Regions from separate parts of the Homo sapiens genome. Here region 2 is linked to region 1. The links come from fine-mapping of genetic effects on gene expression. A gene starts in region 1. The other region holds a variant in brackets. All regions are shown on one strand. Distances are from middle to middle.

Region 1 (5,369 bases):
AATCTTCTATACCAAACAGAGGTTTACTATCTTGTGGCAAACTACTTTAAAACTGTCGTTGAGGCCGGGCGCGTTGGCTCACGCCTGTAATCCCAGCACTTTGGGAGGCCGAGGCGGGCGGATAACGAGGTCAGGAGATAGAGACCACGGTGAAACCCCGTCTCTACTAAAAATACAAAAAATTAGCCGGGCGGGCGCCTGTAGTCCCAGCTACTCAGGAGGCTGAGGCAGGAGAATGGCGTGAACCCGTGAGGCGGAGCTTGCAGCGAGCCGAGACTGAGCCGCTGCACTCCAGCCTGGGCAACAGAGAGAGACTCCCTCTCAAAAAAAAAAAAAAAAAACATAAAAAAACTGTTGTTGAACTTAAAGATGAGTTACAAATTTTCTTTTACAAAAAGACAGGTATTCTATAATTGCTGTCCTCTTCTTATTGGGAAGGGTACCGGAGCTTGATTTTTAGCATTTTTTTAAAGGAACACAATCTGTTGTTGCAAGAAAAAAGAAAACACATTTTAACAGTAAGCTACAAAGTAACTGCTTGTCAAATAAAACTTTTTCTGTATAGAGAACATTTTGAAAACATGTTCTGGAAATGCTATTATTCTGCTGCCAAAAATCTAGGTACTACCTTTTAAAAAAAGAAAAGGAAAACCTCTGCATCTGCACACTGAAAAAAAACTTAGAATTTTTCTTGATTGACGTTCTTCCAAAAGGAGAGTTCTGATGAAATCTGAACCTACTTATTAAAAATATAAATATGCAATAGCTTCTACTAGTTTACAAAGACAACTAGCATTAGAGATAATGGAAATTTACCACCTGAATTCAACAAAAAACTTTGGCCCAGATTGAAAAACACTGTATCATGGCCAGGCGCAGTGGCTCATTGCCTGTAATCCCAGCACTTTGGGAGGCCGAGGTGGGCGGATCACCTGAGGTCAGGAGTTCCAGACCAGCATGGCCAACATGGTGAAACCCCATCTCTACTAAAAATACAAAAACTAGCCAAGCGTGGTGGTGGGTTCCTGTAATCCCAGCTACTAGGGAGGCTGAGGCACGAGAATCACTTGAATCCGGGAGGCGGGAGGTTGCAGTAAGCTGAGACCATGCCATTGCACTCCAGACTGGGCAACAAGAACGAAACTCCGTCTCCAAAAAAAAAAAAAAAAAAGTATCATTACTATTATTTTTTGAGACAGGGTCTCACTCTGTCACCCAGGTTGGAGTGCAGTGGCACGATCACAGCTCACTGCAGCCTCCACCCATGGGCTCAGGTGATCCTCCCCACTGAGCCTCCCCAGTAGCTGGGACTACGGGAGAGGGCAACTACGACCGGCTTTTTGTAAAAAAAAAAAAAAAAAAAAAAAAAAGTATCACTATAAAGAGCATGCAACAGTAAGTTTTTAACAATTACTACCGTCACTAAAGCCAATTTGGAACAGAGACCTAGGCCTTAAGTAGCTGTAAAAGTGTCAAGACTTTCAAATATAAAGAAGCATATTCAAACACACTTCTTTTACTAAAAATAAACTTCGAAATTTATTTTAAAACCCACTTACAGGATGAGATTGACAACGTATCTCAGGCTGAAGAGGGAGGCAGGTGGAAGAGTGGTTCTTTACAAGAGAAGGGATGTGCAAGTACTCTTTGAAATAACAACCTTAGAAGGAGAAAGATAATTGCAAGGATCCAAAGGAAGTGCACACAGGGCAAAAGGAACATACAGAGATCCTTAACGAGACCTTCTTTCCAATGTCAAAGAACACAAGGCAGCGAGGGGCACTGGGAACAAAAGGGAAAAAACTGTGTGAGATGCAATTACCAAGGGAGGCAGGCACCCGACCCCGCAGAGCAGCAAATGGAAGTGACTCAGGAGGGGAATAAGCCAAATTCATGTTATTGAAAAGCTCATTCTAGCTGCCAGATGGAAACTGACTGTGGACGGAAGGAGCAAGAGTTAGGAGGCCTCTTGCAAATACGCACTTTATGAAGCTTTACGAAGTGTTCAACATGTTTATTATTAGGAAAAGATCAATTTTAGTATTCAATCACTTACAATCCGCAGCGCTAGTCAACAATTAACATTCGTTAAATAAGTTTTAAGACTGTTCTACAACTTTGCCACTGTAACTAAGTTCAACCGATGAGATGTCAAAATGATTCATTCAATCTTATACTATGGTTATATGAGACACCAGTTAATGAGCAAAAGCAGCTAAGACGAAGCTCCACTTAACAGGTACAGAGACAGGGATGCTGGTGAGTGCTTTTTAAATTTTTTCTTTTTTTAAAAACAGGCATGAAGTGACATACCTAGCGTATATGGTGAGATTTTAAAAACATAAAGCCTTGCAAACTACCCATAACGGCTACATGGAGTGACAACAGCAACCGTGAACACAGAATTAAGTTTAAAGCAAAACTCCCTCTTAGAACCTGTTAACCCACTGTAGACAGAACTGGTCTTGACGATTTCCTCCCTCCCAGAGAGTGATTCGGCCCTGAGGGGGCTCCAAGACACCCACCCGAGGATAAAGCCAGGGAGCTGGGCACCGAGGAAGAGGCTGGGGTCCAAGGGCGCACAGCTGCACCTTCTGCGGGACACCTGAGAAGAAAGGGGTGCCGAGGGCGCTTTGGGGACGGGGCAGCTGGCGCCAACAGCCAGGCGCGGGTCGACTCCTCACCTCGGGACTGGGACGCGGCGGCTCCTCCCCGCCCTCCGGCCGCGGCGACTCCAGCAGCGCGAGAGCCACGGCCTCGCCGGCAGGCTCTTTACTCTGTGGATCCTCCATGCCGGCTGTCACGCCAGAGGAGAGTTGCTGGAGCCGGACACTTGCTAACTCTCACTCTGCAGAGCCCGAAAGCCTCGCCTTTCTCCGTTGAAAAATTACCGGGCTCGCGTTCCCGCGGCGGCGGCCACACAAACTCCAGCGGCCACCTCCCACTTCCGGGAGCGTGTGGCGTCCACACGCCGGGCAGGCGCAGTGAGCCGGCGTGCGCGGAACGCCAGCGCCGCAGTCCACAGGGGGAGGGAGGACGAACAAGAGGGAGGCGCGCCGGTGAGAAGACGGGGCGTGGCCGGCCGTAGGCGGAGCTAGCGCGGGTTGAAGTTGCGCAAGGATCTAGTCCAGTCACTGGAGGGTAGCACCGGCACGTGTGTTCCCGTCAGTGTTTCCTGAGAAGGAAAAAAGTAGGGTGAGTGGGAAGATATCATAGAGAAAGATGTTTTCGACCATAAAAAATAATAAAACAATTCACATTTTCCATAAGGAGTTTCCTAAAACTTCCACTCTGGGCAAGAAAAGAAAATGGGTCGGGACTTAGTGTCCCACTATAAACAATTAGAAAACGGAACAAAATATAGGAGACACCTATTCAGACATTGGACAACGGACAGCTGTGGACTGTTTTACCTGAGAGAAAAGAAATAAAAGGAGCCGTATATCATCCTGCCCTTTTGCCCAGAGGCGATTTCCAGTCTGTGGTGCGATGAAAGGAAATCATATGGAAACCTAGGATCTCCTGGGTTGAAAAGACAGAGATTGGAGTTGACGAAATTGGGGTAGGCCAAGTCGGTTGGAATTTGTAGGGCAGAATTCTGGAGAGGAGGGAATTACATGGAAAAAGAGCTTCAGAAATCTGCTTAGGAGTACCTTGAATCTTTAACTGAATAAAAAACGTGAAACTCCACAAGGCCAGGAAAGAACAATTACTGGGGAGCAGTACACCAAACAATGGTGAGAGGTCACACAGAACTGGGAATCATTTGAGCTCCCAGCAACCAGAGTGAAGAGATTATTGAATACCATGGAACACGCAATAGAAACCTCAGATGTGAAACTGCCATTGCAAAATTATCATTGAGACAGTGAAAGAGATCAGACCTAACCAACTCCATCTTGCTTTTAACCTCCAGGCTATCCTTATTCATTCCTAGGCGTAGGCCAAACTAACACTGGGAGGAACTTAGTGTATAGCTTATAGTTTAAAACAAAGGTGATAGCCCTTTCTCAAAATAAACCCTCTTCTTGAGACTAGACTGCTTTTGTAGGACTAGTAAATTAGCCGAAAGATTAGAAATTATGATTTAGGACTCATGCAGCTGAAGGCTACAAGATTCTAACCCTCTCCAAATTGCTCCTGGGGATAATATCACTATTGTAAAATCTAAGATCAGTGCTTGAGATATTTTGCAGGCCCTGCACTTGATGGATCAGCTGGCACCTCCCAGATTGATAAACTGACTCACCTGATCTTGGATAAACTAGCTCATCTGATTTTGTGTCCCCCACGGGAGGAACTGACTCAGTGCAAGAGGACAGCATCGACTCCCTATGATTTCATCTCCTACCCAACCAGTCACCACTCCCATCTCACTGGCTTCTCACCCACCCAATTATCCTTAAAAACTCTGATCCCCAAATGCTCAGGGAGACTGATTTGATTAATAAAACTCAGGTCTCCTGCACTGCCAGCTCTGCATGAATTGCTCTTTATTGCAATTCCCCTGTCTTGATAAATCGACTCTGTCTAGGCAGTAGGCAAGATGAACCTTTTGGGTGGTTACGAAAGTGTCATGCCTTAGTGAGATATAATAACCGTAGACTGCAGGACCCAGAACATAAACTACTGTAGATTCTTCAAAAGCCTTAAAACAAGCCCTGAAAGGATCAAACTGCTCTGTAAGTAACCTAATTACCTGTAAGAACAAATTCTAAAACTCTCTGAAAGACTACAGTAAAATCCAGGATTCAACAACATTAAATTCAAAATGTGAGACATCCAGTCAAAAATTGAAAGACACGCAGCACTTGGGGATGCTGAGGCGGGAGGATTGCTTGAGCCCAGGAGTTTGAGGCTGCAGTGACCTATGATTGCACCACCACAACCCAGCCTGGGTGACAGGGTAAGACTCTGTCTCAAAAGAGAGAGAGAGAGACCAAGTGGTAAGAAAATATCTCACGAAGTTCATAGAAACAAACCCCAAAATGATAAAAATGATGGAATTAACAGACAAGGATTTTAAACACCTGTTATGAATATGCTCAAAGATTTAAAGGAAGACATGATAGGAGAGAAACTGGAAAGATTTTTGAAAAATCAAATTTCTGGATGGAGGTGAAAAATATTTGAAATAAAAATTTCTTTGGATGGGATTGCTAGCGCATTAAGCAATGCAGAGAAAAAGGTAAATAAATTCAAAGATATAGCAACAGAAACAATACAAAATGACACACACACACACAGAAAAAAGATGAATACAGCTTCAGTAACCACTTAAAGAGGCTTAATACTTCAGGACCACTTGAAGAGGCTTAATACTATTGACCTAAAAGGTAGAAGCTGAGGCAAAATTAATATAACTAGAG
Region 2 (5,369 bases), 58 kb before region 1:
CCTTCTTCTCCCTTAGCCTGTGTTCTCAAGAACTTAAAACCTCTTCAACTTACACCTGACCTAAAACCTAAATGCCTTATTTTCTTCTGCAATGCCACTTGACCCCAGTATAAACTCTACAGTGGTTCCAAATAGCCAGAAAACGGCACTTTCAATTTTTCCATCCTACAAGATCTAAATAATTCTTGTTGTAAAATGGGCAAATGGTCTGAGATGCCCGATGTCCAGGCATTCTTTTACACATTGGACCCTCCCTAGTCTCTGTTCCCCATGCAACTCATCCCAAATCTTCCTTCTTTCCCTCCCGCCTGTCCCCTCAGTCCCAACCCCAAGCATCGCTGAGTCTTTCTAATCTTCCTTTTCTACAGACCCATCTGACCTCTCCCCTCCTTGCCAGGCCGAGCTAGGTCCCGATTCTTCCTCAGCCTCCGCTCCTCCACCCTATAATCCTTTTATCACCTCCCCTCCTCACACCCGGTCTGGCTTACAGTTTCATTCCATGACTAGCCCTCCCCCACCTGCCCAGCAATTTCCTCTTAAAAAGGTGGCTGGAGCTAAAGGCATAGTCAAGGTTAATGCTTTTTCTTTATCTGACCTCTCCCAAATCAGTTAGTGTTTAGGCTCTTTTTCATCAAATATAAAAAACCCAGCCCAGTTCATGGCCCCTTTAGCAGCAACTCTGAGACGCTTTACAGCCCTAGACCCTAAAAGGTCAAAAGGCCGTCTTATTCTCAATATACATTTATTTTATTACCCAATCTGCTGCCGACATTAAATAAAGCTCCAAAAATTAAATTCCGTCCCTCAAACCCCACAACAGGACTTAATTAACCTGGCCTTCAAGGTGTACAATAATAAAGTAGAGGCAGCCAAGTAGCAACATATTTCTGAGTTGCAATTCCTTGCCTCCACTGTGAGACAAACCCCAGCCACATCTCCAGCACACAAGAACTCCAAACACCTGAACCGCAGCTGCCAGGGGTTCCTCCAGAACCTCCTCCCCCAGGAGCTTGCTACAAGTGCCAGAAATCTGGCCACTGGGCCAAGGAATGCCCACAGCCCGGGATTCCTCCTAAGCCACGTCCCATCTGAGCGAGACCCCACTGAAAATCAGACTGTTCAACTCACCTGGCAGCCACTCCCAGAGCCCCTGGAACTCTGGCCCAAGGCTCTCTGACTGACTCCTTCCCAGATCTTCTCAGCTTAGCGGCTGTAGACTGACACTGCCGGATTGCCTCGGAAGCCTACAGGACCATCACAGATACTCTGATTAACTCTCACAGTGGAGGTTAAGTCCGTCCCCTTCTTAATCAATACGAAGGCTACCCACTCCACATTACCTTCTTTTCAAGGGCCTGTTTCCCTTGCCTCCATAACTGTTGTAAGTATTGACAGCCAGGCTTCTAAACCTCTTAAAACTCCCCAACTCTGGTGCCAACTTAGAAAACATTCTTTTTTGCACTCTTTTTTAGTTATCCCCACCTGCCCGGTTCCCTTATTAGGCCAAGACATTTTAACTAAATTATCTGCTTCCCTGACTGTTCCTGGACTACAGCCACACCTCATTGCTGCCCTTTTCCCCAGTTCAAAGCCTCCTTCGCATTCTCCTCTCGTATCCCCGCACCTTAACCCACAAGTATAAGATACCTCTACTCCCTCCTTGGCGACTGATCATGCACCCCTTACAATCTCATTAAAACTTAATCACCCTTACCCACTCAATGCCAATATCCTGTCCCACAGCACGCTTTAAAAAGATTAAAGCCTGTTTTCCCTCACCTGCTACAACATGGCCTTTTAAAGCCTATAAACTCCCCTTACAATTCCCCCATTTCACCTGTCCTAAAACCAGACAAAGTTTACAGGTTAGTTCAAGACTGTGCCTTATCAACCAAATTGTTTTGCCTATCCACCCCGTGGTGCCAAAACCATATACTCTCCTATCCTCAATGCCTCCCTCCACAATCCATTATTCTGTTCTGGATCTCAAACATGCTTTCTTTACTATTCCTTTGCACCCTTCATCCCAGCCTCTCTTCGCTTTCCCTTGGACTGACCCTGACACCCATCAGGCTCAGCAAATTACCTGGGCTATACTGCTGCAAAACTTCAC[G/A]GACAGCACCCATTACTTCAGTCAAGCCCAAATGTCTTCCTCATCTGTTACCTATCTCGGCATAATTCTCATAAAAACACACATGCTCTCCCTGCTGATCATGTCTGGCTAATCTCCCAAACCTCAATCCCTTACAAAACAACAACTCCTTTCCTTCCCAGGCATGGTTAGTGCGGTCAGAATTCTTACAAAAGAGCTGGGACAGCACTGTGTAGCCTTTCTGTCCAAACAACTTGACCTTACTGTTTTAGCCTAGCCCTCATGTCTGCGTGCAGCGGCCGCCACTGCCCTAATACTTTCAGAGACCTTTAAAATCACAAACTATGGTCAACTCACTTTCTACACCTCTCATAACTTCCCAAGTCTATTTTCTGCCTCACACCTGATGCATATACTTTCTGCTCCCCGGGTCCTTCAGCTGTACTCACTCTTTGTTGAGTCTCCCACAATTACCATTGTTCCTGGCCCGGACTTCAATCTGGCCTCCCACATTATTCTGGATACCACATCTGACCCTCATAACTGTATCTGGCTGATCCACCTGACATTCACCCCATTTCCCCATATTTCCTTCCTTCCTGCTCCTCACCCCGATCACATTTAGTTTATTGATGGCAGTTCCAGCAGGCCTAATCGCCACTCATCAGCAAAGGCAGGCTATGCTATAGTATCTTCCACATCTATCACTGAGGCTACCGCTCCGCTCCCCTCCATTACCTCTGAACAAACCGAATTAGTTGCCTTAACTCAAGCCCTCGCTCTTGCAAAAGGACTACGCGTCAATATTTATACTGACTCTAAATATGCCTTTCATATTCTGCACCACCATGCTGTTATACAGGCTGAAAGAGGTTTCCTCACTACGCAAGCGTCCTCCATCATTAATGCCTCTTTAATAAAAACTCTGCTTAAGGCCGCTTTACTTCCAAAAGAAGCTGGGGTCATTCACTGCAAGGGGCATCAAAACGCATCAGATCCCGTTGCTCTAGACAATGCTTATGCTGATAAGGTGGCTAGACAAGCAGCTAGCTTTCCAACTTCTGTCCTTCACGGCCAGTTTCTCTCCTTCACATCGTTCACTCCCACCTACTCCCCCGCTGAAACTTCCACCTATCAATCTCTTCCCACACAAGGCAAATGGTTCTTAGACCAAGGAAAATATCTCCTTCCAGCCTCACAGGCCCATTCTATTCTGTGGTCATTTCATAACCTCTTCCATGTAGGTTACAAGCCGCTAGCCCGTCTCTTAGAACCTCTCATTTCCTTTCCATCATGGAAATCTATCCTCAAGGAGATCACTTCTCAGTGTTCCATCTGCTATTCTACTGCCCCTCAGGGATTGTTCCGGCCCCCTCCCTTCGCTACACATCAAGCTTGGAGATTTGCCCCCGCCCCCCACCAGGATTGGCAAATTGGCTTTACTCAACATGCCCCAAGTCAGAAAACTAAAATATCTCTTAGTCTGGGTAGACACTTTCACTGGATGGGTAGAGGTCTTTCTCACAGGGTCTGAGAAGGCCACCGCGGTCATTTCTTCCCTTCTGTCAGACATAATTCCTCGGTTTGGCCTTCCCACCTCTATACAGTCCAATAACAGACCAGCCTTTATTAGTCAAATCACCCAAGCAGTTTCTCAGGCTCTTGGTATTCAGTGGAAACTTCGTACCCCTTACCATCCTCAATATTCAGGAAAGGTAGAACGGACTAATGGTCTTTTAAAGACACATCTTACCAAGCTCAGCCTCCAACTTAAAAAGGACTGGACAATACTTTTACCACTTTCCCTTCTCAGAATTCAGGCCTGTCCTCGGAATGCTACAGGGTACAGCCCATTTGAGCTCCTGTATGGACGCTCCTTTTTATTAAGCCCCAGTCTCATTCCAGACACCAGACCAACTTGGACTGTGCCCCAGAAAACTTGTCATCCCTACTATCTTCTGTCTAGTCATACTCCTATTCACCATTCTCAACTACTCATACATGCCCTGCTCTTGTTTACACTGCCGGTTCACACTGTTTCTCCAAGCCATCGCAGCTGATATCGCCTGGTGCTATCCCCAAACCGCCACTCTTAACTCTTAAAGTAAATAAATAATCTTTGCTGGCAAGGCTATGCTGAACCTCCTTAGGCACTCTCTAGGTAGATGTCCTAGGTCCTCCCAATTCTTAGTCCTTTAATACCTGTTTTTCTCCTTGTCTTATTCCCTTCTTTTTTCACTTCATACAAAATTGTATCTAGGCCATCATCAATAATTCTATAAGACAAATGTTTCTTCTAACAACCCCACAATATCACCCCTTTCCACAAAATCTTCCTTCAGCTTCTCTCTCCCATTCTAGATTCCCACGCTGCCCCTAATCCTGCTCGAAGCAGCCCTGAGAAACATCGCCCGTTATCTCTCCAAACCACCCCCAAAAATTTTCGCCACCCCAACACTTTACCACTATTTCATTTTATTTTTCTTATTAATATAAGAAGACAGGAATGTCAGGCCTCTGAGCCCAAGCTAAGCCATCATATCCCCTGTGACCTGCATGTACACATCCAGATGGCCGCTTCCTGCCTTAACTGATGACATTCCACCACAAAACAAGTGAAAATGGCCTGTTCCTGCCTAAACTGATGACATTGTCTTGTGAAATTCCTTCTCCTGGCTCATCCTGGCTCAGAAGCTCCCCTACTGAGCACCTTATGACCCCCACTCCTGCCCGCCAGAGAACAACCCCGCTTTTTCCTTTACCTACCCAAATCCTATAAAACGGCCCCACCCCTATCTCCCTTCGCTGACTCTTTTTGGACTCAGCCCACCTGTACCCAGGTGAAATAAACAGCCTTATTGCTCACACAAAGCCTGTTTGGTGGTCTCTTCACACGGACGCGCATGAAAGTTGGTTTGTATGAGACGGTTAAAAAGGCCAAAGATAAAAGATTTATTTATTTATTTATTTATTTATTTATCAATGAAGTTGCTGTTTATTTATTTATTTTTTTTGGCCTATTTCACAGATGTGTGAAACAATGTTGTCCAACGATGAAATGGAATTTTATTTTGCTGAGTTGTTCTAACAACAACAGCAAAGACATCATGCATAAATCTTGTATAAGATCCACACATGGTTGCCAAGATAGGAAATACCTATGCCAATTCAATTAAGTCAAGTTAAACAGAAGACGATACTTTCAGGGATCATTTCTGTAGTTTGCTACTAGAGAAGTTCCTCTAAACGTGTAGAGAAAAAAATGTTAAACAGGAAT

Direction of the effects. Positions count from the first base shown, and alleles are read on the strand shown. Sizes are in standard deviations (SD) of each study's normalised expression.
For the expression in lymphoblastoid cells of the gene that starts at base 2,959 in region 1, G is the high allele of the variant in region 2 and A is the other (moderate effect, 0.42 SD a copy in GENCORD).

What was found. PIP is the estimated chance that this variant, and not a neighbour inherited with it, causes the effect. A credible set is the group of variants that fine-mapping cannot tell apart.
Region 2: its variant is the best candidate, but not a certain one, in a credible set for the expression of ERI1 in lymphoblastoid cells (GENCORD, PIP 0.50).

Annotation. Positions count from the first base shown.
Region 1 is chr8:9,000,487-9,005,855 of GRCh38, reverse strand. ERI1 (exoribonuclease 1) reads right to left here and starts at 2,959. Exons shown (of 7, transcript NM_153332.4): 1 at 2,685-2,959. The coding sequence starts at 2,792. It overlaps LOC105379227 (a long non-coding RNA gene), which reads left to right and starts at 3,114. Exons shown (of 3, transcript XR_002956680.2): 1 at 3,114-3,195.
Region 2 is chr8:9,058,544-9,063,912 of GRCh38, reverse strand. SNORD3I (small nucleolar RNA, C/D box 3I) reads left to right here and starts at 5,283; the gene lies at 5,283-5,369. It also overlaps a transcript of ERI1 not described here. RefSeq lists an enhancer at 2,804-3,349. The variant G/A (reference allele first, on the strand shown) is at 2,114.